Homo sapiens: one gene and its partner. The protein of the gene in region 2 purifies or fractionates together with the protein of the main gene of each other region. This does not show direct contact. Each region holds a gene or a part of one and is shown on either strand. Other genes may lie near its edges.

Region 1 (16,458 bases), on a different chromosome or scaffold from region 2:
GTCCAGGCTCCATCCGGGGTGCACGTGTGTATTTGTGTGCAAATAGAGTCCATGCAGTCCCTGGTCTTGGACCTCCCGCTCTTATAGGTGCAGGCATCCAGTGAACTGGGGAGGGAGTAGCTGGGACAGGAGTCCCCCATGATACTCACAGGACTCCGGACATCACCCGGCTGTTACCTTGAGGCCTTTCCCTTAGCTACTTCCATAGTCTTTAAAGCCTGGGGATTTCAAGGTGCTCACTCTAATCACATGGGGGTCACATAAGGTTAAGTTTCCTTCCTGAGCTGCTGTTAAAAGAGTGTGAAGGCCGGGCACGGTGGCTCACGCTTGTAATCCCAGCACTTTGGGAGGCTGAGGCAGGCAGATCACGAGGTCAAGAGACCATCCTGGCCAACATGGTGAAACCCTGTCTCTACCAAAATTACAAAAATTAGCTGGGCATGGTGGCGCACGCCTGTAGTCCCAGCTACTCAGGAGGCTGAGGCAGGAGAATTGCTTGAACCTGGGAGGCAGAGGTTGCAGTAAGCCGAGATCACCACGCACTCCAGCCTGGCGACAGAGCGAGACTCCGTCTCAACAACAACAATAACAATCACAAAAAACAAAAGAGTGTGAAGTGAGATCCAGCAAGACTGCTCAGGCTGGGGCAGGGAGGGAGGGTATCGAGAGTCATTGTTTAAGGGGTACAGAGTTTCTGTTTGGGATAACGACAATGAAAATGAATATTTCAAAGGCATCATAAATGCTCCTAAGGCTGCTGAACTGTACACTTAAAAATAGCTGAAATGAACATTTTTTGCTTATTTTACCACAATACAAAAAAATACTGCAAGGGCTGCCATTGCCTGAGGGGCAGCAGGAAGATACCTGCAAAAGGGAGCTAGGCCTGTGTTTTACCCCCTGGACCTGTCAGCATTCCAAAGTCAGCACTTCTCTAGGTGTCCATGCTCTCATTGATTCACCTGCTGGATGTCTTCTTTGTTGAAGATATTGCTAATTTTTAAGAAACTCTCATTCAAAAAGCTGAGATTGAGGTTTGCCAGGGACATAGAATTCACTCATGCAGGGTCTGTTGACTTTATCCCTTAAAGCCTCTCCCATAACCTCCAAGCTAAGTAAAGTCTCATAATTTGCCTCCTGCACAAATATTATCAATCTCTGCCTAGGCTCTTTTCCTCAAATGTCTTCTTCCTGTGATCCATCTGACACTTTATGACAAGCTCAATATTCTGAACACAAAGCTCTCATTTTGTCATAAGCTTCATTAAAGTGAACCTTCAATGAATCTCCATTTTTTTATGAAATAAAGCTCAACATTTCAATTCAGAAATCGGAATATTCAAGTCTGTATAATAATCTAAGCTTCACATTGTTAAAAAATATGTGTTTTCCTTTCTATCCTTATTCTTTCACTTTTTTTCTCTCAGCTGTTTTCTAACAGCTTAGGGGCTAGAAAAAGAGAAGAGAAAAGGAAATAAAGTTCTTAATTTACACACTATTTTGTAATTCATTCAGTTTCTCTGGGTCTGACAGATGTTTTATGTCATGGGTAAGTTTCATGAGTGCTTTATAAAGTCCAGATTAGTAAGATCTCTCCTTCGTTTTATGGTTTAACAAGTATTCAGACAACAACAAAGAACTTTAGAGAAATTAAAACATGATAGCTGGAATAATTAATAGAATTGAAAGAAAAAATTAAAATAGTGTCATGAAAAGCAGTATGTATGTGGTGGAAAAGATAAAGCAATAAAAAATATGAGAGAAAAGAAAAGAAGGTTGGAGGATGAATCCATTATGTCCAACTGAAAGAATTCCAGAATGACAGAGATCATGGTGGAAAGAAAGTCACCGAAGAGGCCAGTTGTGGTGGCTCATGCTTGTAATCCCAGCACTTTGGGAGGCCAAGGCAGGCAGACCACTTGAGCCCAGGAGTTTGAGACCAGCCTGGGCAACATAGTGAAAGCCCATCTCTACAAAAATTAGCTGGGTATGATGGCACGTGTCTGTAGTCCCAGCTACTGGGGAGGCTGAAGTGGGAGGATCACTTGAGCCCAGGGGGCAGAAGTTGCAGTGGACCGAGATCATGCCACTGCACTCTAGTCGGGATGACAGAGCAAGACTCTGTCTCAGAAAAAAAAAGTCACCAAGGAAATAATACCAAAAAATTTCCCAGAAAAAAATACAGTATTGAAAAATCCATAGACATCCATCTGTTTTCCATACCAAAAAATATTTTGCTAACATTCTGGAACATTGTCTTTAAGAAAAGGTCTTTCTTTCCCAGAAAGAAACAGTGAGGCACATACAGTGATGGGGAATAATAATGGAACCAACACAAGAACTGGTGGATGGAGGATAAATACTAAAAAATCAGAGGATTGTCAACCTCTAATTCTATACAAATATGAATCTGTAATCAGCCTACTCATTCAAACACAAAGATAAAATAAAGATCCTCAAACATTTTATGCCCAATAAACTTCTTCTCCAAAAGGTACTGGAGGACAGACCCCAGCAAAAACAAGTACAACAAGAAAGAGAAAGACATGGGACTCGGTAAACAGTGATGAAAATAGGAGTTAGTGGATAAATCAAGAGAACAGTAATAAAAGATTATTTGGAACATGGAAATCCTTCTGTAGAGAAAGAAGGTCTCAGGTCAATGCAGAATCGACACCACACCAAATGGGGGAGGGTGATACATTTTGTTGAAAGGATTCATAAATTTCCTTAAGGAATTAATCAGCAAGTTGAATGGGAAGACACGATATAGAACTGAAGAAAGTTACAATGTATATCACTGAGATGAGATCTTATTATGCAAATTAAAAACCTATAGAAATCCAAGGATATAGAAAGGAAAGCTTGTGGAAGAGGTGATGGCTGAGTTGGACCATGAAGCACCTAGAAGACGAGGATGACAGGCAGGGGAAGCAGGGCCTCCAGGTGCATGGAGCAGCCTGGGCAAAGGCATGGACATGAGGCTGACTCAGCCACCTGGAGGACAAAGATGCCCACATTCCTGCTGGCACCTTGCCAGGCTGGGGCTACACTCCCTGTTTGCTGAGTATGAGGCTCACGAATGCTACTGGTCATTCATCACAAGAGCAAATGTGTGCAGGTATTTCTCTAGCACTTGGCAGTACTGACATCAAAGGTAAGTAATCCTTTTTCTGTGGGATCTGTCCTTTGCATTGTAGGAGGTTCAGCAGTACCCCTGGCCTCTGTCCCCTGGGTGCTGATAGTACCCTACCACCATCCAGCTGTGACACCCAAAACTGTCCAGACTGATGTCTTTGGGAATAGGGAGGAGATGGGAGTAGGTGTGCCCTAGTTGACAATCGCTGCTCTACAGTGGAAAACTTTATGTCGGTTCTCCTATGTGACTCTTGCAATGGCCCTAAGGCAGGCATTCACAACTTTGGGATCACCACAGTTACCAGAAAAACGAATGGGGCATTGAAAAGAAAAAAAAGTCATGAACTTAATGGAGAAGATGTTAGTGTAAATATCTAATGAACCAAATCAGTTGTTACATGGGTACAGGATTAAGCTTTTCACCACACATTATAGGGAAATGTCAAGTTAAGTAAAGTTCATAGTTTTGGTTAAGGAGCCAAGGAGAATTAGCCAGGGGCTGACACCTGACCTCGGCTCTGCTTCCTAATCCAGCTCCATCTCCCAACTCATTAGATGAATCCAGGTCAGATCATATCGTGGTAATCGTCATTTTTTGAGAAACAGATCACTGGGCTGGCGTGGTGGCTCATGCCTGTAATCCCAGCAGTTTGGGAGGCCGAGGTGGGTGGATCACTTGAGGTCAGGAGTTCAAGACCAGACTGACCAACATGGCAAAACCCCATCTCTACTAAGAATACAAAAATTAGCTGGCCGTGGTGGTGCACACCTGTATTCCCAGCTACTTGGCTGAGGCATGAGAATCGCTTGAATCCAGGAGGCGGAGGTTGCAGTGAGCTGAGATGGAGATTGAGCCACTGAACTCCAGCCTGGGTGACAGAGTGAGACTCTGTCTCAAAAAAAAAGGAACACTGAGGTGGCCCCACCCCAAGCTGGCACAGCCTCCAACTACCTCCTTCCCTTGCCTGTCTCCTCCCACCCTGACCCCAAAGCCCTCATCCAAGAAAGTACAACATTAGTGTTAGTGCCCAGGATGTCACCCAGATGTGTGGTTAGTGTTGTGTGTAATCCCTGCCTTTACTAAAGATTCAAATGTCAATGAGTGCCTCTTTTTAGATAGACCTTGTACTAAAACATGAGAGATATCATCAGTGAACTCTTGTAAAGCACCAAATTTTGGCCCAGAAAATAAATTACAAAATTATTGATTAAGCACTTATTGTATGATGTTGTCATACAGAAGCAGGACATGCAGAGAGGCCATGTTCTCCAGGAGCATGAACAGAGAGGACAGGTCAGCTCCAGGGGATGTCAGGTCGGAGCTGCCCACGGAGAGCCACAGGTCCCTGGGAAAGGGGAGATCCAGGGAGTTGGAGGGGCCAGCAAAGAACACAAGGTGTGAGCTGCTTTGATGTGGCTTCCAGAATGAATGAAGCGTTTCAACCCAGAGTGACTAAGGCAAGGCAGTGGAGACCACAGGGAGCAGAGTAAAATTGTTCAATTACTGTAAGGTAAAATTGCAAAGTAAACGTAAATTATTTCAATAATTTCTCAAGCAGAAAACTGCGGGTCTTGTGCAGAAATCCACACGGAGTTCCCACAGGGCAGCAGTGGGTGTCAAGGTCACCAGGATCCACCTGAACCATGGTGTGCAGGCTTCTCAGTGTCCAGCCAAGGAGGGAAATAGTGTTGACAGCAGCTTGTGGAGGCAGAACACCTGGCTTCATATCCTGTTTCTGCCACTTCCCAGCTGTGTCCCAAAAAGTTCTATGGAATCTCTGTGTCCTTTCTCCTGTAGCTGGGGTGAAATGATCTGCCCACTTCACAGGGTGGTGATCACACATCCAGTTTGCTCAGGACAGGCCTGGTTTACATTGTTATCCTGGCATCCCACCCATTTAGGGTTCCCTTTTATTCTCCAAAGTGCCCCTCATTTACAATCAATAGCATGGTCACCCTGCTCATAGGATGATGGCTGTGAGATTCAAAGGGGCTTACAACAGTGCCCGTCATTTAGGAACTGGTGTAGAATTGTTTTTCATTCATATTTTATTGAACATTTCCTGAAAGTTGCTAAACAATGAGATCTTAAATGTTCTTATCACAAAAAAAACAAGTGTGTGAGATGATGGTGTGTTAATTAGCTTGAATTAATCATTTCAGAATGCATATATACATCAAAACATATAAACCATAAATAAATATAATTTTTATTTGTCAATTTACCTTAGTAAAGCTGGGTAAAAAATTAAAAAATGTATGTAAACATGTTCAATAAATTGGAACTGGTTTCTGGGAAGATTAATATGGTAATACTAAGTAGAAGATGCTTGGGTGATAAGTTATTTGTAAATTATTTCAATAAAACTCTGAGGCTAGTCGTGGTAGTTCATGCCTATAATCCCAGCACTTTGGGAGGCCAAGGTGGGCGGATCACTTGACCCCAGGAGTTCGAGACCAGCCTGAGCAACATGGCGAAACTCTGTCTCTACCAAAAATACAAAAATATAGCTGGGCGTGGTGGTGTGCGCCTGTAATCTCGGCTACTGGAAAGGCTGAGGCAGGAGGATCGCTTGAACTCAGGAGGCAGAGGGTGCAGTGAGCCAAGATGGCACCACTGCACTCCAGCTGGGGCGACAGAGCAAGACCCTGTTCCAAAAAAAAAAAAAAATCATAAAACCAAAAAACCTCTGAGGAAAGGGGAACGCTGAAAAAAAATCAAATACACATGGATCAAAACACAGAACTTTGTTTTCAAACTTAAAAGTTTTAGCTTATATCTGAATAGTTACTCAAATATTTTAGAGAATATTATGTGGAAGCCGAGTTTCAGTAGTGTCGAACAGTCCTAGTGGTCCTTGGAGTTTACCATAAATACATTTTTTTATTATTCAAAAATAATGGCTACCAGCTGACATCTGGATAGCACCTGCTTTGTGCCAAGCACTGTTCTCAGGACTTTCCACTTTTTACTTGTGAATCACAGCAATTCTATGACTGTTCCCATTTTAAAGGGAACACACAGCATTAAGTCTCCTGTCCAATGTGGCAGTCAGCAAACGGAGGAGCTGTGATGTGAACACAAGTGGTGGTCAGGCTCCGAGTCCTCACTCACCACCCACCTGCCATCCAACCCTTACGAGAAAGGGCTGCAGAACCTGCAGAGATGGGACCCAGCAGTGCAACACAGCGGCGCTCAGCAGAGCTGCAGCTTCTCAGGCCCTCCCTTCCCAGATCCTTCCTGGGAGTCTTGGGAATGTCCAGCTGGGATGGGACTGCCCCATGGAATAAGGGATTTTATCCTTTCCTTACTTTTCAATCATCTGACTCCTCTGGGAGTCACCTCCGGCATCTTCTGAATTTATCCATCTTTAACCTACCTCTCCCTACCCACAGCCTCCCCTCAACCTCTGAGCCAGAGGACGTTTCTCCCACTTAAGGGAAAGCACCCTTTCCCTCCTTTGGCCTTCCAGAGCCCTTCATCCATCTCTCTCTGCACCTCTCCTTTCCCGTCCGGGCTTATAGTCTCCTGTGTGTGTCTCCCCAGGCCTCTCAGAGGTACAGAGGGTCACAGGTCTCTTCTGACAATTGAGTGAGTATGAAAAACGCACCACCGTCACGTGCATCTTGGGTGTGTGTGTAAGGGGAAGGGGGTTCTTCCTTGGTTGCTGTAGACTCCCCATGGAAGCTACAGCCTCTCCTTTCCTCAGCCCCATTTCAGAAAGGAGAGGCCAGAAAGCGTTTCTGATGCTTGTGGTCTCTTTAGAGGATTCACCCTGTTCCCTTCACTCAATCCCAACCCCGTGTCACCAGATGTATTCACCCCTACGCAGGGGGAGGTCAGTCTTTGCAAGCTTCTGACACATTTTGGGACACTGAGCTGGAATATGGGGGTGCTGGGGTGGATTGAACACTGAGCAACTCAGACTTGGAATCCCAGCATGAGGCTCGGGCGCGAGGGAGGCGCTGGGTCTAGACGAGGCCTTGGTGACTTGAACAACAGGCATATTGCTGCCAACAAAGATGGCTCCAAGACCAGAGGCCTTTCCTGAAGTTCTGTTCTGTGTAAGAAGGTGACTGACAAGGCAGGGCCACAAGGACTGGGGCACCAGGCAGAGCCCCAATAAGTACTGGCCAAGGAGACACTCTCACATTTCATAATCAAGGTCCTTCACTACCCTTGGGAAACAAGGCCACCAGCCAGGGTCAGCTGTGTACAGTGGTAAGTAAACAACACTTCTCCTTTCTGTCCTCCCCAAAATTAGGTTTGTTCTTGGCCACTGAGGCTCCACCTGAATGGTGGAAAGAAACATGTCGCAAGTAATCCAGAGAGAAAACAATGCATTCACAGGGAATTAACAATGGATTCATTCCTCTGGCTGTTTCATCGACTTCTTTTTTTTTCTTTTTTCTTTTTTTACCTGAGCCAACTTTGTTTTTCTTGTTCCTATGACCTTCACTGTGCCCCTAATTAAACAGGGATGGGCTTTCTATCATGTGAGGCTGTCCCGTCCTTTTCCTGATTCTATGTGGCCACGTTCCTTCCCTTCCTTACCTTGCCAGTGCCATCTGTCCTCAAGCTTCTGTACTTGCAGTTCCCTCTCCCTGGAATTCTCTTCCCCAGATGTGTCCTTGGACATCACCATCCACTCATCCAAGTCTCAGCTGAAACAGCACCTGCTCCTACAGGCTGCCTTGGGGGGCTTACAGGCCACTGCCCCTGGGCAGGCCATCTATGACAGCATTCAGCTGTTGTGAATATTTTGTTGTTCTTTGCAGCAATGACCACTTTCTCATACCTCTGATATATCTTTAGTCTTGTTCTTTGTGTCCTTCATTAGAAAATAAGGTCCACAGGAGCAAGCACCTGGTCTAACCTGTTTCTATAACTGAATCTAGTGCAAGGCCCAGCTCACAGGAGAAGCAAAACAGTGATGCGTACAACAAGGGATCCACGCATGAATGCAACTGCCATTTATTCAGAATTATCTCATGCTTGGCTGCGTGATTAAAAATTTACAGAGCGTCGGCCGGGAGCGGTGGCTCAAACCTATAATCCCAGCACTTTGGGAGGCCAAGGTGGGTGGATCACGAGGTCAGGAGTTTGAGACCAGCCTGGCCAACATGGTGAAACCCCCATCTCTACTAAAAATACAAAATAAATAAATAAATAAATAAATAAATAAATAAATAAATAAATAAAAATTAGCTGGGCGTGGTGGTGCACACCTGTAATCCCAGCTACTCAGGAGACTGAGGCAGGATAATCGCTTGAACCCGGGAAGGCTGAGGTTGCAGTGAGTTGAGATCACGCCACTGCACTCCAGCCTGGGCAATAAGAGTGAGACTCCATCTCAAAAAAAAAAATTTACAGAGTATCTCTCATCTTTACAAAAATTCACGGCCAGGCGGGCACGGTGGCTCACACCTGTAATCTCAGCACTTTGGGAGGCCGAGGTGGGTGGATCACCTGAGGTCAGGAGTTCGAGACCAGCCTGGCCAACATGGAGAAACTCCGTCTCTACTAAAAATACGAAAATTAGCCGGGCCTCGTGCCACATGCCTGTAATCCCAGCTACTCAGAAGGTTGAGGCAGGAGAATCGCTTGAACTCGGGAGGCGGAGGTTGCAGTGAGCCAAGATCGTGCCACTGAACTCCAGCCTGGGCAACAGGGCAAGACTCTGTCTCGAAAAAAAAAAAAATTCAGCATCACTTATACCCGTTTCACAAAGACAGAAAGGAAGCCCAGAGGGACCAGCATTGTAATTTGCCCAAAGACACAGCATGAGTACGTGTGGCCTCCAGGATCCACACCCACACCTGCCCAAATCTTATCACCTAAATCTCATCATCACCCAACCCCATTGCCACCCACTGCCTAGCACTGCCTGCCCAAGCAGTCAGTTACTCCACTCACTCACAGCATCCTCTCAGTCAGTGGATAGAAAACCGTAAAAGGCTAACAAAGAACTAAGCACAAATTAAATTATAAATATATTGTAAAATAAATTTGTAAAGTTGAATTAACTTAGTGTTGTAATTCTTAACAAGAATAACAAGAAGCTTTCAGTAGAGGTTAGATATTAATGTTTTCCCCAAAACTTAAAGCACTTTTCGGGGCTGGGCATGGTGGCTCACGCCTGTAATCCCAGCACTTTGGGAGGCTGAGTGAGGTGGATCTCCTGAGGTCAGAAGTTCGAGACCAGCCTGGCCAAAATGGTGAAACCCTGTCTCTACTAAAAATACAAAAATTAGCCAGGTGTCCTGGCGCATGCCTGTAATCCCAGCTACCCAGGAGGCTGAGGCAGGAGAATTTCTGGAACCCGGGAGGCGGAGGCTGCAGTGAGCCAAGATCGCACCACTGCACTCCAGCCTGGGCAATAGAGTGAGACTCTGTCTCAAAACAACAACAACAACAGCAACAAAACCCCAAAAAACAAAAACAAAAAAACCCGCTTTTCTGAAAAAGAAATGTCTATGGATTAGGAAGGTCTGCCTCCCATAGGAAGATGCAGGTATTGCACATAGCCCAAATATTTGATGATTCCAGGACCGGCAGATACACAAGTTATGAAACTGTTTGTACCTTGAAGAATAACGAGAAGAGGAGGAGACCAAGAGGAATAGAAGAAAAAGAATAGAAGGAGGAGGAGGAAGAAGGGAAGGAGGACTAGAAGAAAACTACAATAATAACAACATTGTTGAGACCACAAGATCACGCCACTGGGTTTTGCTTTATATTTTGGAAAACACTGTCACATCCATTTTACTAAAAGCCATGTATCATTATTGTAGTCCCCAGATTGTCAGGGATCCAAATATTACTGCCTTCTTGGTTTCTACAAACAGAGCACAGGCTGGCTGTGTTCCCATTGGTGTACACTATTGTGTCCTGGTCCCATGCCAGGTTGACACATTGCCTCATTCCTGGGAGGGACTAAGGTGCCTCCCTGGGGAATAAATAGAGCAGGGCTGGGTACTCACCTCCACAGCAACTTCCTTGATCCCTGCCACGCACGACTGAACACAGACAGCAGCCGCCTCGCCATGAAGCTGCTGATGGTCCTCATGCTGGCGGCCCTCCTCCTGCACTGCTATGCAGGTGAGTTCTGGGCAGAGAGGGCTGCTTCTGGGCTAGGAATTGTCACCTGGGCCCCTGTAGAAGAACTCCCAACCTCTAATCCCCAGCACAGACGAGCCCCAGTGTGAAGGGCCTGGGTGCGATAGGCCTTAGGATCCCCATGAGTTCCTGACAATCAAGCATGCAGTGTCCTCATGGGCTGTCCCCTGCATTGGAGCTGCACACAGTGTATCATGGCACTCAGCGTCTCACCATGGTCACGGTGACCATAGAAACCAGGATGAGTCTCAGGATTAAATATTGAAATGAACTATTTCAGTGGGGCAAGGGAGAGATGGCATCTACACCTAGAAATCAGGAAATAATCATGGGTCTCCTTGAATATGGAACGAAATAGGAAACCTCCCAGGACAGAAGGCCCAGGCTGCAGAGTGTGACCCAGTGTCTCTCACCCTGTGTGGCTCACTCTGTGTTCTCAGAGTTGATCTGGGTCCTTCTGGGATGCCCTTACCCTCCCAGTTGCTTCAGGCTCAAGGCAGACAGGTGAGAACTCACAACCCCTGGAGTCTCCTTCCAGCACTAAAGATTCAGTGGGAGGAAAAAGCCCCGGCTGCTGGAATCAGCGCTAATATTTCCATAGGTAGCCTGCCTTGTGCAGTTCACAAAGGTGGATTCCAAACCCTACCGTATTGGCATCCAAGGTAGGTGCAGATGTGTAGAAGGGTGACAAGCTCACAGTCAACTAACTGGAAAATCACAAAGTCCAGAGCACAACCAGCTCACATGAAGCCACGTCCTGAGCTCGTTCCTCTCCCTTACAGTGGGAGGTGACCTCAGATCCCCTCATGAACAAGCTCTATTTCACATTCATGTGTGTGTGTGTGTGTGTGTGTGTGTGTGTGTGTGTGTGTGTTTGAGACAGGGTCTTGCTCTGTCACCCAGGCTGGGACTGGGACTGGTGTGCAATGGCACAGTCTCAGCTCACTGCAACCTCTTCCTCGAAGGCTCAAGTAATGCTCCTGCCTCAGCCTCCCGAGTAGCTGGGACTACAGGTGGACACCACTATGCCTGGCTAATTTTTAAATTTTTTGTAGAGATGAGGTCTCCCTGTGTTGTCCAGGCTGGTCTTAAACTCCTGAGCTCAAGCAATTCGCCTGCCTTGGCCTCCCTAAGTGCTGGGATTACAGGCGTGAGCCACCATACCTGGCCACACATTCCCTTTTATTGCAGTAGAGTCAACAGAACTAATGGACAATGTCCTAGACCCATTCATCTGAAATCCTTGGAAACCCTACCTGATGCTGGGCATGATAACAGGGAAGCATTGCATGACTTTGAACCAAGAAAGTCCAAGTAGTGTTTGCTATGTCCCCCCAGTCAGAACACCTCATTTCTCGAGGGTCCTCTTCACCAAGAATACACAGGGTTGGGCTTCTCTGGGTTTGGAAGGTCAGAGAGAATTTGCAGAGCCTGAGTTTACACTCCCAGAATTGAGAACTCTGCATACTGCACCAAAATCTTTCTGAACCTCGGTCTGTCCCTGGAGGTACGAAGATAGCCAGCTTCCCAATTCATCTGTAGAATGAATCACACCTCTAGTAATGGCCCATGTTCTTGTGTCTTTTTTTTTTTTTTTTTTTTTTCCAGATTCTGGCTGCAAACTCCTGGAGGACATGGTTGAAAAGACCATCAATTCCGACATATCTATACCTGAATACAAAGAGCTTCTTCAAGAGTTCATAGACAGTGATGCCGCTGCAGAGGCTATGGGGAAATTCAAGCAGTGTTTCCTCAACCAGTCACATAGAACTCTGAAAAACTTTGGACTGATGATGGTAATTTGGGTTTCTTCTTATGTACCCTTTGAAAATCACTGATCAGAACCAGCGGGCTCTAAATTTGGCACCAAGAATGCCAAGCAACTGGTGAACAAACTTTCTTTATATATCAATTCATTAAACTTTGTCTCCAGGCTGCTTTGCCACTTCACATTGAGAATCTTTAGGGAGTGATAAATGGAAAAGGCAAAAAGGAGAAAAGAAAGCCTTAGAGATCACCCGTCTACCTCTGACCTCACCAGTCCCTTCTCACACAGACACAGACACACATAAGCACACAAGTATAGACACACACAGACACACGGGGACAGGCATCGGCATTTTTTTTTTTTTTTTTGAGACGGAGTTTCGCTCTGTCACTCAGGCTGGAGTGTAGTGGCGTGAATCTCGGCTCACTGCAACCTCCACCTCCCGGGTTCAAGAGATTTGCCTGCCTCCACCTCCCGAGTAGTTGGGATTACAGGTGTGCGCCACCACGCCGGGCTAATTTTTGTATTTTAACTAGAGAAGGAGTTTCACCATGTTGGCCAGGCTGGTCTCAAACTCCTAACCTCAAGTGATCTGCCTCCCTTGGCCTCCCAGAGTTCTGAGATTACAGGTCTGAGCCCCCGCACCCAGCCAGAACATGCACATTTTTATCAAGAGAAAATATCTGGTTCTCAAGAGATCACACACTTGTAGGAGCAATCTACTAAGAAATTTCCTACTTTCACAAAAACAAATATTCAAAACATTCTTATTTTTTTTTATCTAGCTCAGAAAATACAATTTGTGCAAATTCTGCATTTTCTAAAATAAAGAAAAAAATTTTTTTGAGATGGAGTTTCACTCTGTTGCCCAGGCTGGAGTGCAGTGGCATGATCTTCGTTCACTGCAACCTCTGCCTCCTGGGATCAAGCAATTCTTGTGCCTCAGACTCTCAGGTAGCTGGGACTACAGGCATGTACCACCATGCCCAGCTAATTTTTGTATTTTTAGTAGAGATGAGATTTTACCATGTTGGCCAGGCTGGTCTTGAACTCCTGACCTCAGGTGATCTGCCCGCCTCGGCCTCCCAAAGTGCTGGGATTACAGGTGTGAGCCACTGCTCCCGGCCTAAAATAAAGAATTTAAAATGCAAGTCCAAGCAACCAAGATTTGTTAGCATACATGACTGGAAGTCATGCACCACTTAATTAAGTGCCTCATGAAGTGGGAAGTGCAGATTATGGGTATGAAACAGCACGAGTGCTAGAATTGTTTAAAACAAAAGTCAGTGGTTATAACAAGGAGTATTTCTGTCTGTTTATAAAGATGTGTTGGTTACGAGTTTTGTTTTTTGTTTTTCGTTTTTTTCGAGATGGAGTTTAGCTCTTGTTGCTCAGGCTGGAGTGCAATGGCACGATCTCGGCTCACTACAATCTCCGGCTCCTGAGTTCAAGTGATTCTCCTGCCTCAGTCTTCGGAGTAGCTGGAATTACTGGCACACAACACCACAGCCTGCTAATTTTTGTATTTTAAGTAGAGATGGGGTTTCACCATGTTGGCCAGGCTGGTCTCAAACTCCTGACCTCAGGTGATCTGCCCGCTTCAGCCTCCCAAAGTGCTGGGATTACATTTTTTTTTTAAGAATTTATTTAATACCCTAAAATTTTATTTAAAACATTCCATAATAAAAAATGTAAAGATATATCAAATGCTCAAGGATAAAAATAAATATTAACTGCAATTTGGGATGGTTGAATCATTTTTTTCTTTAAAAACTCAGATTAGCCAGGTGCATCCCTCATACCTGTAATCCCAGCACTTTAGGAGGCCAAGGCGGGCAGATCACTTGAGGTCAGGAGTTCAAGACCAGCCTGGCCAACATGCTGAAACCCTGTCTCTACTAAAAATACAAAAATTAGCTAGGCGTGGTGGCGCACACCTGTAATTCCAGCTGCTTGGGTGGCTGAGGCAGAAGAATTACTTGAAGCCAGGAGGCAGAGATTGCAGTGAGCCAAGATAGTGCCACCGCACTCCAGCCTGGGCAACAGAGTAAGACTCCATCTCAAAAACAAACAAACAAACAAAAATCCTAAACAAACCAAAAAAACCCCTCAGATTAATCATTCATATTGTAAAACTCCAGTGTTTCTTGTTTCCGTTTTTTTGTCTTTGTTTTTGTTTTTGAGACAGAGTCTTGCTCTTTTGCCCAGGCTGGAATGCAGTGGTACAATCACAGCTCACTGCAGCCTCCATCTCCTGGGCTCAAGTGATCCTCCCGCTTCAGCCTCCTGAGTAGCTGCGACTACAGGTGCACACTAACACACCTGGCATATATATACATATATATACACACACACATATATACACACATATGTACACACATATGTACACATATGTACACATATATGTGCACATATACATGCATATATGTACACATATATGCACATATATACATATATACACACATATATACATATATACACATATATACACATATATACATATATACACATATATACACATATATATATATATATTTTTTTTTTTGTAGAGATGGCATTTTGTCATATTGTCCAGGCTGGTTTAAACTCCTGGGGTCAAGCAATCTGCCCTCCTTGGCTTCCCAAAGTGCTGGGATTACAGGCATGAGCCATCCCACCCAGCCCAGCTCCAATATTTCATAGGCCTCAAAGGTAATGGTGAAGAGTCTCAGACTGTTACAACATTTCTACCTTTTATGCCTGTGCAGCAACTCAAAACCATCACATTCTTGTATCTGAGCTGAGATTTTTTAATAATTCTGTGTTGTAAAAGTGGTATCAGAAACAGTCCAAATGATCAGGTCTTCAACAAATAGTATATGCAGCATATTTATTGGATAAGTTATTTCAAAGGATAGAATTTTTGGAGAAAAAAAGTATTACATGGATCACTGGTAGGGAAGAGATCCTACAACCCTGGCCCCTGTTTGGCATTATGAAGTGTCTCCTAGATAACAGAATAAATGGAGAGGGGATGCTGGCTTTGCTTCCACTGCAAATCCTCCTGAGAGTTAGCTGTTTGTGGACAAATGCAAGAAAACAAGAAGACAAGTTTTAATATTTGATTTAATAAGTGAAATTTGCAAACCTAAGTGACCTGCTTTTGTTTTCCAGCATACAGTGTACGACAGCATTTGGTGTAATATGAAGAGTAATTAACTTTACCCAAGGCGTTTGGCTCAGAGGGCTACAGACTATGGCCAGAACTCATCTGTTGATTGCTAGAAACCACTTTTCTTTCTTGTGTTGTCTTTTTATGTGGAAACTGCTAGACAACTGTTGAAACCTCAAATTCATTTCCATTTCAATAAACTAACTGCAAATCACTAAAATTCTTTCTTGTTCTTCTATAAAAAAAGAAGCTTTCCAGGCTGCACAGTCAGGCTGTAGGTTGCAGACAGAGACAAGCCTCGAAGGAGTTGAGTGAGGGTCCGAGGTTTCTGGGAAATACTTTATTTCTCATCATCTCGAGCCCAAGAGTTGGACTTCTCTCTCTCTGCAGAACAAAGTATTAGCTCTTGTTGCTTAGCTAATTTTTCTCTGAAGAGTGTTTCACTCTCCACATCCCACTACCTCCCTAAGCCACTTTCTCTGGGGACCTCACACTCTTGGAGTCATGCTCAGAAGCCCTGATTTTACCCCAGTCCCATCCATGCTGAGCCCTGCTGGTTATGCCAGGCTCCTCTGGGTTGTCTTTGGGCCTCCCCAACGTGTGCAGGGCCCAGACCAGAGCCAGCCAGGGAGGGGAGGCCTGCAAAGCAAGGTGGATCCTGTCTGGATTTTAAATTTTGAGTTTTATTTGTCGTTCATGGATGTTGGCATTAATTTTGAACTTTTAAAATATTGCATGAAAATATTACTTACCCTGATGACTGAGTTTGCTAGCATAGCGACACCTTAAATTGTGCAACTTTTCTCAGTCCAGTCTCTGCCAGTGGGTCCATCCTCCCCTGCCCCACAGTGAGCTGCAAAGGCAATGAGGGTTGAGGGGAGTGAGTGTGCTATGCAGGGACCCAGCACAGAAGGGGATGTTTAAATGGAACCGGGGTCTCCATCGTGTCCTGTCCCCAGCACTCCTGTCACCAGGGTTAGGTTATTGCCTGTCCCTTTTCCTTCTGGGGCTATCCCCTCACCCAGGAAGACCCTGTCTATGTGTCTGGACAACTCAGCTTCACCAGGGCCGACTCTTCCATCAGGCAAGGCAAGGGCAGGGATCCAGGCCCACAATATACATAGGGGTGTATGAAAATGTTATAATTTAAAGAATAATTTCCTGAAGTGATTGTAATATTAATGAACATATACCAATGAATCTAGCCTGAATTCTATACTTCGTCTTACCAATACAGTTGTAAAGTATGTTTAAAATGTTCTTATGAAGAAGTGGCCTATG
Region 2 (15,974 bases):
TATATATTAAACACTATACTTTGATAACAGACAATATACTTTCCTCTCCAAGGGCACATGAAACATTCACAAAAATCAGTCATATTCTAGGGCACAAATCAGTAGGTTCCATAAAGTAGGTTTCCATAAAGTAGAAATGTTACAAACAACACCTTCTGGTCACAGTATAATAAAGCTAAAAATTAAAATCAAAATCTCCAAATTAAAAAGGTCTTTCTACCTGGAAATTAAAAGGCCTTCTATTAAACAACTCTTGTGTGATAAGGGAAACACAAGCTGAAATTAAATAATTTCTGAAAAATAATAATGAAAATAGTACATATCAATCTGTGACATACATTAAAATAGTAAAAAGATGAAAATTCCCAGCCCTGGACACCTACATCAATAAAAATGAAATAATAAAAGTAAATTCATTAAGTGTCTAACACAAAAACATAGAAAAATGGGTGAACTAAAAGAAAGCACAAGTAGGAAATAATAAATGCAAAAGCAGAAATTAAGATAGAAAAAAGAAAAACAATGAGTCAAATTCATGAATCAAAATCTTCATTCTCTAAAAAACAAAACAAAATAGATGTGGGTGAGGACCACTAAAGTGATGGGAAGAGGAAGATCATGTAACACGCTGCTTATCATTTTTACATTAATTCATGATTGTAAGCATAAAGTCTCTAAAAATTTAAAAAAACCCTGAGCTTAACAGTTTTTATTAAACGGAATTCATTTTTATTTCACTCACATTTTCTTCCTTTTGATTACTGAGATGCCACCTGTCAAAACTACAATTAACGATAGAACATATCTACCTTAATATGCTTCGTGCTATCGTTTTTTAGGAAGTAAGTAGTAGGTAGGGAGATATTCCATAAAGAATTATAACAAATAGAATGTTAGTCAAGATTGCTAGGCAATTTAAATGTTCTAAATAGAAGAGACTGCTACTTGAGGAAAAAAAAACCTTGCCTATTGAAAGAAAAGGATTTTCAAATTGGCTTATAAAAAACGACTCTATGCTGTGTACAAGAAGGATGCCTTCTCATTTAAACGAGTTTCATTGTGAATGTTTGTTGTATAACTTTACTGATACACTAACATGATACATTTTGGGATTCTTCAGGATAATGAATGACACTAAGAAAGTTCAAATTGCTGAGTAATGTTATCATGAATTAGAGATCAATCAGAAGCATAAAGGAATGAGTAGGACAGATATAGAACCACAACCAAATACTGGCAAATCATATAGTAATTCACTATCAAAGACTTTAGTATTAAGCAGGAAACAGAATCTAAGATCAAGGTAAGCAGAATTGAAAATAGGAGTTAGAGAGTAGAGAAAAGAAGAAAGAGGAAGGTTTGGCTTTAGAATATTCTGATGTGGAAACCACACTTGTCTACTTCGACGTAAGATGATGAATGCTTGCGTTATTCATCATAACTCACTATGAATGCTTGTGTTATTCATAACAGGCTGTTGGAAAGCAGCAGTCCTTCAAAGGGGAATTTTTTTCTTAGAAAATTAGTAGTTTACAGAAGACAGCATAGGTTTATTCACTTAAACAAGAGTTGTTTTTTTAAATTTTTAATTAAAAAATTTTATTATTATTATTTTTTACTGCTCCTTGTGCAGCAGGGCTACCCCATAAGCAGTGTGCCCAGAGTAGTCAGGAGTTTCACTTCTTTATATACATATATGTATATATATATATATTTTTTTATTATACTTTAAGTTCTAGGGTACATGTGCACAACGTGCAGGTTTGTTACATATGTACACATGTGCTATGTTGGTGAGCTGCACCCATTAACTTGTCATTTACATTAGGTATATCTCCTAATGCTATCCCTCCCCGCTCCCCCCACCCCACAACAGGCCCTGGTGTGTGATGTTCCCCTTCCTGTGTTCATGTGTTCTCATTGTTCAATTCCCACCTATGAGTGAGAACATGCGGTGTTTGGTTTTTTGTCCTTGTGATAGTTTGCTGAGAATGATGGTTTCCAGCTTCATCCACGTCCCTACAAAGGGCATGAACTCATCATTTTTTATGGCTGCACAGTATTCCATGGCGTATATGTGCCACATTTTCTTAATCCAGTCTATCATTGTTGGACATTTGGGTTGGTTCCAAGTCTTTGCTATTGTGAATAGTGCCGCAATAAAAACACGTGTTCATGTGTCTTTATAGCCGCATGATTTATAATCCTTTGCATATATACCCAGTAATGGGATGGCTGGGTCAAATGGTATTTCTAGATCTAGATCTCTGAGGAATTGCCACATTGTCTTCCACAATGGCTGAACTAGTTTACAGTCCCACCAACAGTGTAAAAGTGTTCCTATTTCTCCACATCCTCTCCAGCACCTGTTGTTTCCTGACTTTTTAATGATCGCCATTCTAACTGGTGTGAGATGGTATCTCATTGTGGTTTTGATTTGCATTTCTGACGGCCAGTGATGATGAGCATTTTTTCACGTGTCTTTTGGCTGCATAAATGTCTTCTTTTGAGAAGTGTCTGTTCATATCCTTTGCCCACTTTTTGATGGGGTTTCAACAAGAATTTTAAAACAACTGTTTATTTGTAAAGAGGATGCTTAGTATCTCTGTTGCCAATGCTGGTAGTTATTTTGTGTGTGTATTTTAGAGTAATGAAAATCTGCATTTAAATAATATTTGTAATTCATTTTCACTATTTTAGACTGACCATATATCCTGAATTTGGTCAAGTCATCAGTGTTTCTCTACTTTTGTGACACTATAGGAATTGAAATATTTTTCCTATTTTCAGGCATAAAGCTTATGAAATGATTAAAGATTTCTAGAAAAAGCAAGGTTTTTTGCTTCAATAAATCATAAAATTGTTAAAAAAAAAACTCTGCACTTGGTTGAATTGGGGATCATAACATGAACTTACATGTGTTTATTTTAAATCTCTGAGTAAAATACAGAGGTGAGATCTTGGCCTCTTCTGACATGCCGAAGGTCTATTATGAACAGTTCTGCCTGATTTAAAATTATGAACAGGTTCACATTAAAAGGAGCCTTACATTTTTAAAAAGTAGTATCTAGGCCGGGAGCAGTGGCTTACACCTGTAATCCCAGCACTGTGGGAGGCTGAGGCAGGCGGATCATGCGGTCAGGAGATAGAGACCATCCTGGCTAACATGGTGAAACCTCGTCTCTACTAAAAATACAAAAAATTAGCCAGGTGTGGTGGCGGGCGCCTGTATTCCCAGCTATTCGGGAGGCTGAGGCAGGAGAATGGCGTGAACCCGGGAGGTGGAGCTTGCAGTGAGCGGAGATCACGCCACTGCACTCCAGCCTGGGTGACAGAGCGAGACTGTCTCAAAAAATAAATAAATAAAAATAAAAATAAAAAGTAATATCTGTGTATCTATTCTACTCTAGTTATTTGATTGGAATGTTGCCAAAAAAAAAAAGGTCTAAGAAACCACAGACCACAAAGAGGGAACTTTTGGAGGAAAATTCCCTAAAGCCTTAGGCTTTGTTATATAGCTGAGATAAAGCGTTTAAAAGTACCTCCTGGGTTCTGACTCCTGCTCCTTGGAGTCGAAAGGCCCTGGTGGATGTGCACTTATACTTTTCCTAGTATGAATAATCCTCACCTTGATTTCTTTTTGTATGGCTACTACTTAAGGTGGACCTCTCCTGTGACTATCATAGAATGAATAACTGATTTAGAATCCCTTTTTTTTGTTTTGAGACAGAGTCTTGCTCTGTCGTCCAGGCTGGAGTGCAGTGGCACAATCTTGGCTCACTGCAACCTCCACCTCCCATGTTCAAGCAATCCTCCCACCTCAGCCTCCTGAGTAGCTGGGATTACAGGCATGTGGCACCTTGCCCAACTAATTTTTGTATTTTTAGTAGAGATGGGGTTTCACCATGTTGGCCAGGCTGGTCTTGAACTCCTGGCCTCAAGTGATCCACCCACCTCAGCCTCCCAAAGTGCTGGGATTACAGGCGTGAACCACCAGGCCTGGCCCAAGTTCTATTTTGATTGCGTACAGATGACTTATGATGTATGTTCTATTTAGATTCCTGGATTCTTCAACTGACTCAAGCTCCTAGGTTGATGAACCACCCTACCTTCCACAGAAACCTGAGACTGGGGATCTTACAGAACTGATCTACATTCTTCTAGAACCAGTCTGCAGGTATGTTTTCCTTGGGAAATTCTGAGGTACCTCGGGACTGATTCAAAGAAACATACTGGGCTGGTACAATCTCAGAAACACAATAAGGAGAACCATTCATGTTGAACAGTATTGTACTACCTGAATTGCTGTTAGCTGCTTATTAACTTCACATGCTCTCAGTGTCTGTTTTCTCAATCACACTCTTTCAAGTCTCTGGATGTTGTAATCCTAGCTCTGTGATCTACTAGCTGTGCCACCTTGAGAACAATATTTAACCTCTCTATGACTATACGAGGGAGATAAAAAGTATACAGCTTAAAAGGTAAAAGAGTGTATACCTCAAAAGAATAAGAGTTAACTGAGATAACTCACGTGCAGGCCTTCCTACATAGTAACTGCGGCCTTCCTACATAGTAACTGCCTCAACACATACAAGGTACCAGATAATTGGACAGCAATAACATGAATAACAATACTATCTGGCAGGGCACAGTGGCTCACGCCTGTAATCTCAACACTTTGGGAAGCAAAGGTGGGCGGATCACTTGAGCCCAGGATTTAGAGACCAGCCTGGTCAACAGAGTGAGACTCTGTCTTTACAAAAAATGAAAAAATTAGCCGGGCATGGTGGTACTTGCCTGTAGTCCCAGCTACGTGGAAGGGTGAGGTGGGAGGATCCCTTGAGCCCAAGAGTTCAAGGCTGTAATCAGCCATGATCACCACTGCACTCCAGCCTGGGTGACAGAGCAAGACTCCATCTCAAAAAAACAAAAACCAAAAAAAGCACCCCAAAATCCCAATACTATCTTTATAACTTAAGCAGTGTATGTAAACTAACTCATTTTCCCATAATAAAGAGCAATATTGAGTTTCATATAGGCCCACTAACAAAAGAAAGTGGGTTTAATCTGCATTGACTAAACACAGGGACTATTATAATGTAATACGGAATTAAGCTACTTACGATCGCATTTCACCCATACATAATACCATCTAGCAGGGAGGCAATATGGAAGATGCACAGAACTTAGAATCAGGAAACTTAATTCTGTCATTGGTTAACTGTGAGAGCATGGGCAGACCTTTTCATATCTCTGAGTCTCAATTTCCATCCTTACTAAATGAAATTACAGTTGTGTTTTTCAAACCCTTCTTAAGCAGTGGAAATGTTTCTTTAAATCTAAGCGCCACACACCCTCCTCTCTGCCCCAGAGACACCTCTATGGAACACAGAGGGCCCCACTGAACATAGTCTGAAAACCACAAAGATAAAGCTCTTGCAGCTTTTATATTGTAGGCCTACGATATATTTATATTCTGGCCTAGGCATCCATCAAATTCAAGGCTTCAGGTTTTCTAAAATAAATCAGATATAGATACAGATAAAATAGTATTATCAGTTGTATATGTTCACAATTCTTAAATATAACTACAAGTAAAATAAAAGTTACCTTAACTTCTGGATATTCTTATTTTCACTTATTCTATTAATATCTGAAAAAACAAAATATTTAAAATCTGTTCATTTATATATATTTCATTAACTGAAATTTATTATTTCAAAAGTTCAATTTACAAATTCATGTTCATCACTTAAGACCTTGACAATATGTAAAACACACATATAACAATGGCAACAAGAAGTGTTATTTTTTCCTTTTATGTGAAAGTACATTTTAAGAGCCTAGAGCAGGCCAGGCATGGTGGCTAATACCTGTAATCCCAACACTTTGGGAGGCTGAGGAAGGAAGACTGCTTGAGGCCAGGAGTTTGAGATCAGCCTAGGCCACATAGTAAGACCTTGCCTCTACAAAAAATTTTTTTAAAAATAGCCTATAGTGGCCGGGCATGGTGGCTCATGACTGTTATCCCAGTATTTTGGGAAGCTGAGGTGGGCGCATCACTTGAGGCCAGGAATTCAAGACCAACATGGGGAAACCCCGTCTCTACTAAAAATACAAAAATTAGCTGGCCATGGTGGCATGTGCCTGTAATCCCAGCTACTTGGGAGGCTGAGGCAGGAGAATTGCTTGACATGGGAGGCAGATATTGCAGTGAGCCGAGATTGTGCCACTACACTCCAGCCTGGGTGACAGAACGAGACTCCATCTCAAAGAAAAGAAAAAAATAGCCTATAGCACTTATCTAAATCATGTTTTTACAACAAAATGTGTTTAATTATATGCTATTGGCCCAATTTTAATTTTAGTGGCACAGATCTCATTGGCACTATCAAGATAATGTAGCAAGTAAACCTACAGGCACATATGACCTAATATCAATATTCTCAGACCTGGCCTTTCTCCAGGTACAGTCCAAACTGACTTAAATAGACCAGCTAAATATCTTCTGACCATTTTAACTGCTCTTCACTGTTTGGAAATGCTCTTGACCAGGCAACATCACTTGTGCTTGGTTAGAGAAGTAATTGGGTAGAGAAACTTCTGTCTGGTGAGTCAAAACAGGTCTATCTATATATTGTAAGCAGGTATACCGAAATGATAAACCACCAAGATTTTTGGAATATCTCGGTGGAATGTAAGCAGTTTTTCCACATTTAAAAAAATGAATGAGCCTGTAATCCCAGCACTTTGGGAGGCCAAGGAGGGATAATTGCTTGAGCTCAGGAGTTTGAGACCAGCCTGGACAATATAGTGAGATCCCGTCTCTACAAAAAATTTTAAAAATTAGCTGGGTATGGTGGTCCATACCTGTAGTCCCAGCTCCTCAGGAGGCCGAGGTGGGAGTATAACCTCAGCCCAGGAGGTTGAGGCTGCAGTGAGCCGTGATCACACCACTGCACTCCAGCTTGGGCAACAGAGTGAGACCTTGTCTCAAAAAAAAAAAAAAAAAGGAAAAGAAAAAAATGAATATATTCTATGTGCAGAATTCAGACTAATGAATGGAAGTAAAGAGAGACAGAGTTTAGTTCAAGGTGGAGATGGATTTTCTAAAGACTAGAGCACCCTGAATATATATGTGGAGGGCTTCCTTGAGAGGTGTTGAAGATAAGAATGGGTGAGCACTTGTTGAAATGGCAACTGCCACTGGTATTCTTTCTTGGGTAGAGTGTTGGACTAGAAAAATCTCTAAAATCTTCTCCAGTTTGGACATTCTATGATTTCCCATGGAAAACATCCAACAAAAACCTGACCTAAAATATGATGACTTCTCACAGATGATATCAGTCAACAGCAAAGCCAGATAGGAACAATTCTAAACTGCTTCCAGCAAGTTTCATGCTATTTTGTTAAAAATGTTTGGCTCTAGATAAATTAGAATAAAGTTTTTACTTTTCTTTTTTCTTTCTTTCTTTTTTTTGAGACAGGGTCTCACTTTGTCACCCAGGTGGCTGTGCAGTGGTGGCTCAAGTGATCCTTCCACCTCAGTCCCCCAAGTAGCTGGGACTACAGCTGCACACCACCATGCCTGGCTAATTTTTGTATTTTTAGTAGAGACGGGGTTTTGCCATGTTGCGCAGGCTGGTCTTGAACTCCTGAACTCCAGGGATCTGTCTGTCCCAGCCTCCCAAAGTGCTAGGACAGGGATAAGCCACCATTCCCAGCTAAGTTTTTTTCCTTTAACATTTCTGCATATATGTTTACAGTCGTATTAAATTCACCTTATCCCAAATCTGCTCTTTTCATCTCCTCACTAAACCTTCTTTCTTGGGTGTTTCAAGTATCTTCATCAATTCAAATTCCATATCCAATTAATCACCATATTCTGTTAAGTTTAAAATCAAGACCAATCAAGTTTCCACCCTCATGAATTTATATTCCAATGGGGAAAGAAAGGCATTAAGGGGAAAAAAATCACAAATATAATTTTGGAGAGTTGTCAAGTACAATAAAGAAAATAACAAAGAACAGTGGTATAAAGAGAGATGGAGTTGAGACTCCTGATATGGTTTGGCTGTGTCCCCACCCAAATCTCAACTTGAACAGTATCTCCCAGAATTCCCACGTGTGTGGGAGGGACCCAGGATGAGGTAATTGAATCATGGAGGCCGGTCTTTCCCGTGCTATTCTTGTGATAGTGAATAAGTTTTATGAGATCCGATGGGGTTGTAAGGGTTTTCCGCTTTTGCTTCTTCATTTTCTCTTGCTGCTGCCAAGTAAGAAGTGCCTTTTGCCTCCTTCATGATTCTGAAACCTCCCCAGCCGTGTGGAACTGTAAGTCCAATTAAACCTCTTTTTCTTCTTCTCAGTATGTCTTTAACAGCAGCGTGAAAACAGACTAATACAGTAAATTGGTACCAGTAGTGTGGGGCATTGCTGAAAAGATACCAGAAAATGTGGACGCGACTTTGCAACTGGGTAACAGGCAGAGGTTGGAACAGTTTGGAGGGCTCAGATGAAGACAGGAAAATGTGAACTTCCTAGAGAATTGTTGAATGGCTTTGCCCAAGGTGCCAATAACAATATGGACAATAAGGTCCAGGCTGAGGTGGTCAGATGGAGATGAGGAACTTGTTGGGAACTAGAGTAAAGTTCTTGCTATGTAAGAACTTTAAGCATAGTAAACTCTTGCTATGCTTTAGCAAAGAGTCTGGTAGCATTTTGCCCCTTCTCTAAAGATCTGTGGAACTTTGATCTTGAGAGAGATGATTTAGGGTATCTGGCAGGATAAATTTCTAAGCAGCAAACCATTAGAGAGGTGACCCGGGTACTGTTAAAGCCATTCAGTTTTATAAGGGAAGCAGAGCATAAAAGTTTGGAAAATTTGCAGCCTGACTATGTGATAGAAAAGGAAAATCCATTTTCTGGGGAGAAATTCAAGCCGGCTGCAGAAATTTGCATAAGTAGCAAGGAGTCTGTGGGCGGCAAGCCATCCAGGTGCCGAGGCAAGAGACCGAGGGCATGAGCTGTTCCAGTATAATAAAATATACAAAATAATAAGAATAGTTATACTAGATATAGATCTTAGATATGATTATATATGAATATCATTAATCATTAGCTTGTAGCAATTATTCTTTATTCCAATATTATAATAATCCTCACTCTACAATCATAACCTAGGAAAAACCAGGCCATACAGAGATAGGAGCTGAGGGGACATAGTGAGAAGTGACCAGAAGATGAGTGCAAGCCTTCTGTTATGCCCGGACAGGGCCACCAAAGGGCTCCTTGGTCTAACGGTAATGCCAGTGTCTGGGAAGACGCCCATTTTCAAGTGGACTGTGGTCTAGTGGTAGCGTCAGTGTCAAGGAAAAATACCCGCTACTTAGCAGACCGGGAAAGGGAGTCTCAATTTCCCCGGGGGAGTTTAGAGAAGACTCTACTCCTCCACCTCTTGTGGAGGGCCTGACAGGCCCGCCTGCAGTTATCCAGAGGCCTAACCGTCTCCCTGTGATGCTGTCCTTCAGTGGTCATGCTCCTAGTCCGCCTTCATCTTCCATCCTGTTCACCTGGCTCTGCCTTTTAGATAGCAGTAGCAAATTAGTGAAAGTACTAGAAGTCTCTGATAAGCAGAAATAATGGTGTAAGCTGTCTCTCTCTCTCTCCTCTCTCTCTCTGCCTCAGCTGCCAGGCAGGGAACGGCCCCCTGTCCAGTGGACATGGGACCCATGTGACCTTACCTATCATTGGAGATGGCTCACACTCCTTACCCTGCCCCTTTTCTTGTATCCAATAAATATCAGCACAGCCTGGCATTTGGGGCCACTACCGGTCTCCGCGTCTTGGTTGTAGTGGTCCCCCAGGCCCAGCTGTCTTTTATCTCTTTGTCTTGTCTCTTTATTTCTACACTCTCTCATCTCCGCACACGGGGAGAAAACCCACTGACCCTGTGGGGCTGGACTCTACAGAGTCTAATGTTAATCCCCAAGACCATGGGAAAATGTCTCCAGGCCATGTCAGAGACCTTCATGGCAGCCCACCCCAACACAGGCCCAGAGGCCCAGGAGAAAAAAGTGGTTTTGTGGGCTGAGCCCAGGGTCCCTGTGCTGTGTGCAGCCTAGGGACTTCGTGCCCTGTGTCCCAGCTGCTCCAGTCATGGCTGAAAGGGGCCAATGTGCAGCTCAGGCTGTGGCTTCAGAGACTGGAAACTCCAAGCCTTGGCAGCTTCCATGTGGTGTTAAGCCTGAAGGTGCACAGGCCTCAAGAATTGAGGTTTGGGAACCTCTGCCTAGATGTCAGATGTATGGAAACGCCTGGATGCCCAGGCAAAAGTTTGCTGTAGGGATGGGACCGTTATGGAGAACCTCTGCTAGCTCAGTGCTGAAGGGAAATGTGGGGTTGGAACCCCCACACAGAGTCCCTACTGGGCACTGCCTAATGGAGTTGTTAAGAAGAGGGCCACCATCCTCCAGACCCCAGAATGGTAGATCCACCAACACCTTGCACTGTGCACCTGAAAAGCTGCAGACACTCAACACCAGCCCATGAAAGCATCTGGGAGAGAGGCTGTACCCTGCAAAGCCACAGGGGTTGGAGCTGCCCAAGACCATGGGAACCCATCTCTCGCATCAGCGTGACCTTGATGTGAGACATGGAGTCAAAGGAGATCATTTTGTAGCTTTAAAATTTGACTGCCCTGCTGGATTTTGGATTTGCATGGGCCCTGTAACTCCTTTGTTTTGGCCAATTTCTCCTATTTAGAATGGCTATATGTACCCAATACCTGTACCCTCATTGTATCTAGGAAGTAACTAGCTTGTTTTTGATTTTACAGGCTCATAGCCAGAAGGGACTTGGCTCGTCTCAGATGAGACTTTGGACTGAAGACTTTTGCATTAATGCTGAAATGAGTTAAGACTTTGGGGGACTACTGGTAAGGCATGATTGGTTTTGAAATGTAAGGACATGAGATTTGGAGGGGCCACAGGTGGAATGATATGGTTTGCCTGTGTCCCCACCCAAATCTCAACTTGAACTGTATATCCCAGAATTCCCATGTGTCATGGGAGCGACCCAGGGGGAGGTAATTTTCTCTTGCTGCCGCCATGTAAGAAGTGCCTTTTGCCTCCCACCATGATTCTGAGGCCTTCCCAGCCATGTGGAACTGTAAGTCCAATTAAACCTCTTTTTCTTCCCACTCTCGGGTATGTCTTAGCAGCATGAAAACAGACTAACACAGCTCCTCTAGTTAGGGTAGGTGAGGGAAGGCCTTCCTAAGGAGGTGGCATTGAACTGAATGACAGAAAGGGGTCAGCCTCACAGTGGCCAGGGATAACTTCTTAAAAGAAATGCCATCACAAAGGCCCAAAAATGAGAAGAGCTCAGTGTTCACTGACTCCCAGTGAAGAAGGCTAATGAGGCTGCAGGGTAGCTAAGTGGGGATGAGAGGGCTTCTAATGGAGGCCAACTATGTGTCATGCCAAAAGGAACACTGTGCTTATCACTTCCTTTCCTACACTATCCTGAGAAGATGTCAGTGAGGTTGGCGGAGGTAAAGCTCATGGGGCCTTGAAAAGGCCACATACTGAAGACTTTGGGGCTTATTCTAAACGCAACGCAAAGCACTGGAGGATTTTAATCAAGGGCATATGATCCTCCAGCGGCTGAGTAGAGAATACACTAGGAGAAGCTGGGGCTAGCTATAAAGCCATTGGAGCAGTCCAACAAAGGGACTAAAACCCAACTCTGAAGTAGGCCAGTCATTAAAAGCAGATGGTGCTGGGGTTGGGAATGGGGATTGACTACAGAAGGGTACAAGGCATCATTTTTGGATGATGAAAATGTTCTAAAACTGAATTGTGTGCTGATTGTACAATTCAGTAAGTTTATTAAAAATCACTGGACTGTCCACTTAAAACAGGTGAATTTTATGGTATGTAAATTATACCTTATAAAGCAGTTTGAAAAGAAAGCAGATGTGGGGAGTGTATTAGTCTGTTTTCATGCTGCTGATAAAGACATTCCCAAGACTGGGTAATTTATAAAGAAAAAAGAGGTTTAATGGACTCACAGTTTCACATGGCTGGGGAGGCCTCACGATCATGGAGGAAGAGCAAGGGAAGTCTTATGTGGCGGCAGGCAAGAGAGAGCTTGTGCAGGGGGAGCTCCCCTTTATAAAACCATCAGATCTTGTGAGGCTTATTCACTATCACGAGAACAGCACAGGAAAGACCTGCCCCCATGATTCAATTACCTTCCACTGGGTCCCTCCCGCAACACACGGGAATTGTGGGAGCTACAATCCAAGATGAGATTTGGGTGGGGATACAGCCAAACCATATCAAGGAAAGTGGGAAGTGTAAATTAGCTGCCTGGGTCCCAGAAGTGAATCATTAAACTTGAACACTGAATTTTCCTGTATCCTGAAAACTCCAAAGTATCTTAATTCCAGATGACTAGCGGTTGCTTTTAGCCATATTTTAATACATGGAAGCACTTCTGCATTCCCTCTTTTCCCCAGGCCTGGACCTCAATCCCCAGGTGTCTGCAACTCTTACTTGATATACACACAATGGATAATCAATAATGATTCAGCTAAGGTAAGGACAAAGCCTTTGCCACTTTTTACCTTTATTCTTTTTAGCCAGAGCAAATAGTGATATATTAATAGGAATACTCTTAAAAAATTGCTTTAAATGCCAGACTACCTCCTTCATATGCACCACTTAAATTTCTTTTCTTACCAAATTCCCTATTCAAATCCTTTCTTTAGGATTTACAGGATTCAGATAAATATACAGTGATCTCCACTACTGTACCCCACTATTGCCCCAGCTGAAGACCTGTAAACTATTCATCAGTACAGCATGTATGTGATTTATGAGCACGCTCATATGTATTAGTTCCCTACAGTTTCCATAACAAATTATCAAAACTCGGTAGCTTAAAACAATAGCAACTTATTCTTTCATAATTCTGGAGGCCAGGAATCCAAAATCAGTCTCATGGGGAAGAAAGCATGGTGTTGGCAGGGCTCCCTCCCTCCCTCTGGAGGCTCTGCAAGAGAATCAGTTCCTTGCCTCTTCTAGCTCTGCTGGTTGCCAGGCATTTGGTGACTTGTGGCCACATCACTCCAATATCTGCCTCTGTGGTCACATTGCCTTCTCTTCGGCCTATATCAAATCTGCTTCTCTCTCTCTCTTAGGACCTTTGCGTTTGCATTTAGGACCCACCTAGATAATTCACGATAATCTCTCCATTTCAAGCTACTTAATCACGTATGCAAAGGCACTTTTCCCTTATAAGGTAACATTTACAGGTTTCAGGGATTAGGACCTGACATATTTGAGTGGCCACTGCTCAGCCTACCATATAATTTGGGGCCATCTAGCTGGGGGACGGGTGGATCACAAGAGGCCCTGTTTAATAAATGGTGGAGGTCTAAAGTGGCTCACTCATAACATACTAGATAAAACTAAGTCCTCATTGTAAATGCACAACAACAGTAAGGGCTTTGCATACATACAAATAAATTGCTGTCCTCAATTTGTTTTGGGAGTATAATATTAACTCTATGGCATGGAAACCATTTCACCCACAACACAAGTAAGATAACCGCACTAAGATTAAAAGCAATGAGCGCAGTACAGAGATAGGAGGACCACATCTCTCTCAGCACTCCTGCACCCTTACCTGATGAGCTTCCGCACAGAGAAACAGTCCTACCTAGCATGTCTCTGGGATATGTGGAAGCCCTGGTCCTTTCCCCACACGCCCCCGCCATACCCGGCCACAACGCCTTAATCTCCTGCTGAGAGAAGCAGCAAGAACTGGTTGCCAGTCAAAAAACCTGGGCAACAGCCGACCTCACTTCTACTTTCCCCTGACGTTGGAGTTCAGCATGAGGCACAAACAAAACCTGGAGCAGCCTGAGTGGGGCCTGGAGCAGAGTGCTGTGGAAAAGGATGGAGACTTTCCAGAACTCATTGTGTTGCTGATTGATGCTGATAATGAGGGAAAGCTCTGACCCCCACATGTGGTTTAAAGACAGGGCTCAAGCTGAAAGGGCCCTTGCGCCGGCATTTAACACCATTCCGTCTTGGATGCGAGGCTGTCCTCTCTACCACCAAGTCTTCCCCATCTCCTCCCCCTGTTCGCGGCAGCGCGGTAGACACAGAGTCAGCAGTCACGTTGGGGCAGGTTACTCGGTGATTCTCTTCCCCACAAATCAAATCAGTTTGCGCAGGCCCCTGTGTTCTTCAAGGTCCAGGTTTCAGCGCCACCGTCCCCAGGGGTCTTGCAATCCCCTAAAACAACAGCAGCTCATTCCAGTAAAGAAACAATTTATTGGGCATCTTCCATGTGCAGAACAAACACGAGGCACCGGAAGATTCCAGAAATGAACACGAGTCGCTCCGGGTCCTCAGAAGAACCCCACTCCCACCCCACCATCCTCGTCTCCCGGGCCGCGCCCCGCTTGTACCTGCAACCAACACCTAATCCTAAGACACCGGCCACATCTCCGCGGGGCGCCGGCGGGCGCAGCGGCCCCACCTACGTCGACCTGGCGGCTGGGACGGGGCGGCTCCCCACTCTTCGCCCCTAGGCCCCGCGGAGGCTGCGGGGCGGCTCCTCCTCCTCGGCTGCGGCGCCGGAAGCTGCCCGCGCCCGTCACTCCTCGCGGCTGTGGCGCTCGGGGCGCTGCCCAGTCCGCGCGAGCCGCGTGGGTGACGGTTAGGACGCTCTGCGAGGCTTCGTAGTTGGGGGAGGGGAGGAGGGGGGTGCTCGGCAGCTGCCCGGCGGGGACCCCTCCCGCGCCTGCGACTCCGCCCGCCGGACGCCGTCGCTGGGGCATCCGAGCGTCGAAGTCCCCACCACCGCCCGGGCGCCCTAAGGAGTGGGGGTGTACCCAGCCCGGAGTCAAATCCTGGAGCCCTGCCCCAGAAACTACCCTGGGTTCGGACCTGCACCCGGCGCCCTCTGCCGCTTCTCCCACAGCCTCCTAACTGGTCTCCGGCCCTACTCTTGCCCCCACCCGAGCGCCTCGGGCCACTCTCGTAGCTGTCCCCACCGTGGTCTTCCCAGATAACTCACTGACCCGCACCAGTCTGAGCTCTTACCTGCCAAAGAGTCAAGCCCAATCTGGAGTTGCCCGCCGGGCCTCCTACTCTGACACCCCCACCCGGCCCCACCTCACCCCCCCCTCCCATTCCCACTCCTGGCATTCCCATTTGACCATTTCAAGTTAACAGAATTCACATTTTGCAGCTCTGTTTTCTCTGTCCCCGAATGTTCAAGTTCAAACGTGTTCTCGGCATAGCTGACCCTTCTGCCTCTGGAGACTTGTTCCCTCCGCTGTGCTACAGTTACCCTCTGTCATTATCTCTAATATAGAATTTATCAGATTTTGCTGCCCAAATTATCGATCAAATGGAACGCATCCAGAAAGGCCAGTGTCTGATAGATGCAGCCTGAGGCATTTAATTCTGCTAGCAATCACATTGTGCAGACACCTACAGCAAATAACTTTTTATGTATAAGTTGATTAGAAATATTAGTAAGTCTTACATTAAATAATGTAGCTACAAATTTTAATAAAAATAGATTAAATGCCATTAAAGATTGTTTATCATATCTTTGTAGTTAATCCATTTATTGGCTTATAGAGATCTAGGATTAGCTATAGAATCGAGCATTTTTAACAGGAAGTGAAACCATAAGTATTACATAGAAAGGTAAATAATTTAGGTCTTGTGGTTGGACAAAAAGCAATTTCTAATTTTTTCTTTTTTCTATCAAAACATGAGTGTTCAATGACATAAAAATTTTCCATACCTAATACATGGTTTCCATTGGTGTCTCATTTTGTGCTTGTACCCTGGACACACACAAAAAGGTTTTTTTCTTTTCAACGTCTTTAATTAAAAGGTGTGTTAATTAGTGTAGCATGAAATTATCTACACCCACATATA

What was found.
Region 1: the proteins of CCDC158 (region 2) and SCGB2A1 purify together in Homo sapiens (affinity purification with mass spectrometry; 3 studies listed by BioGRID and IntAct, with this or other methods). This does not show direct contact.

Annotation. Positions count from the first base shown.
Region 1 is NC_000011.10:62,198,547-62,215,004, forward strand, and holds SCGB2A1 (mammaglobin-B precursor), read left to right. Parts: upstream 1-10,126; 5' UTR 10,127-10,185; coding exon 10,186-10,240; intron 10,241-11,866; coding exon 11,867-12,054; intron 12,055-15,179; coding exon 15,180-15,224; 3' UTR 15,225-15,397; downstream 15,398-16,458. UniProt on the Homo sapiens protein: May bind androgens and other steroids, may also bind estramustine, a chemotherapeutic agent used for prostate cancer. May be under transcriptional regulation of steroid hormones.
Region 2 is NC_000004.12:76,406,480-76,422,453, forward strand, and holds the start of CCDC158 (coiled-coil domain-containing protein 158), read right to left. Parts: upstream 14,663-15,974; 5' UTR 14,486-14,662; exon of another isoform or gene 13,696-14,485; intron 7,886-13,695; exon of another isoform or gene 7,782-7,885; intron 5,654-7,781; 5' UTR 5,611-5,653; intron 838-5,610; exon of another isoform or gene 743-837; intron 1-742.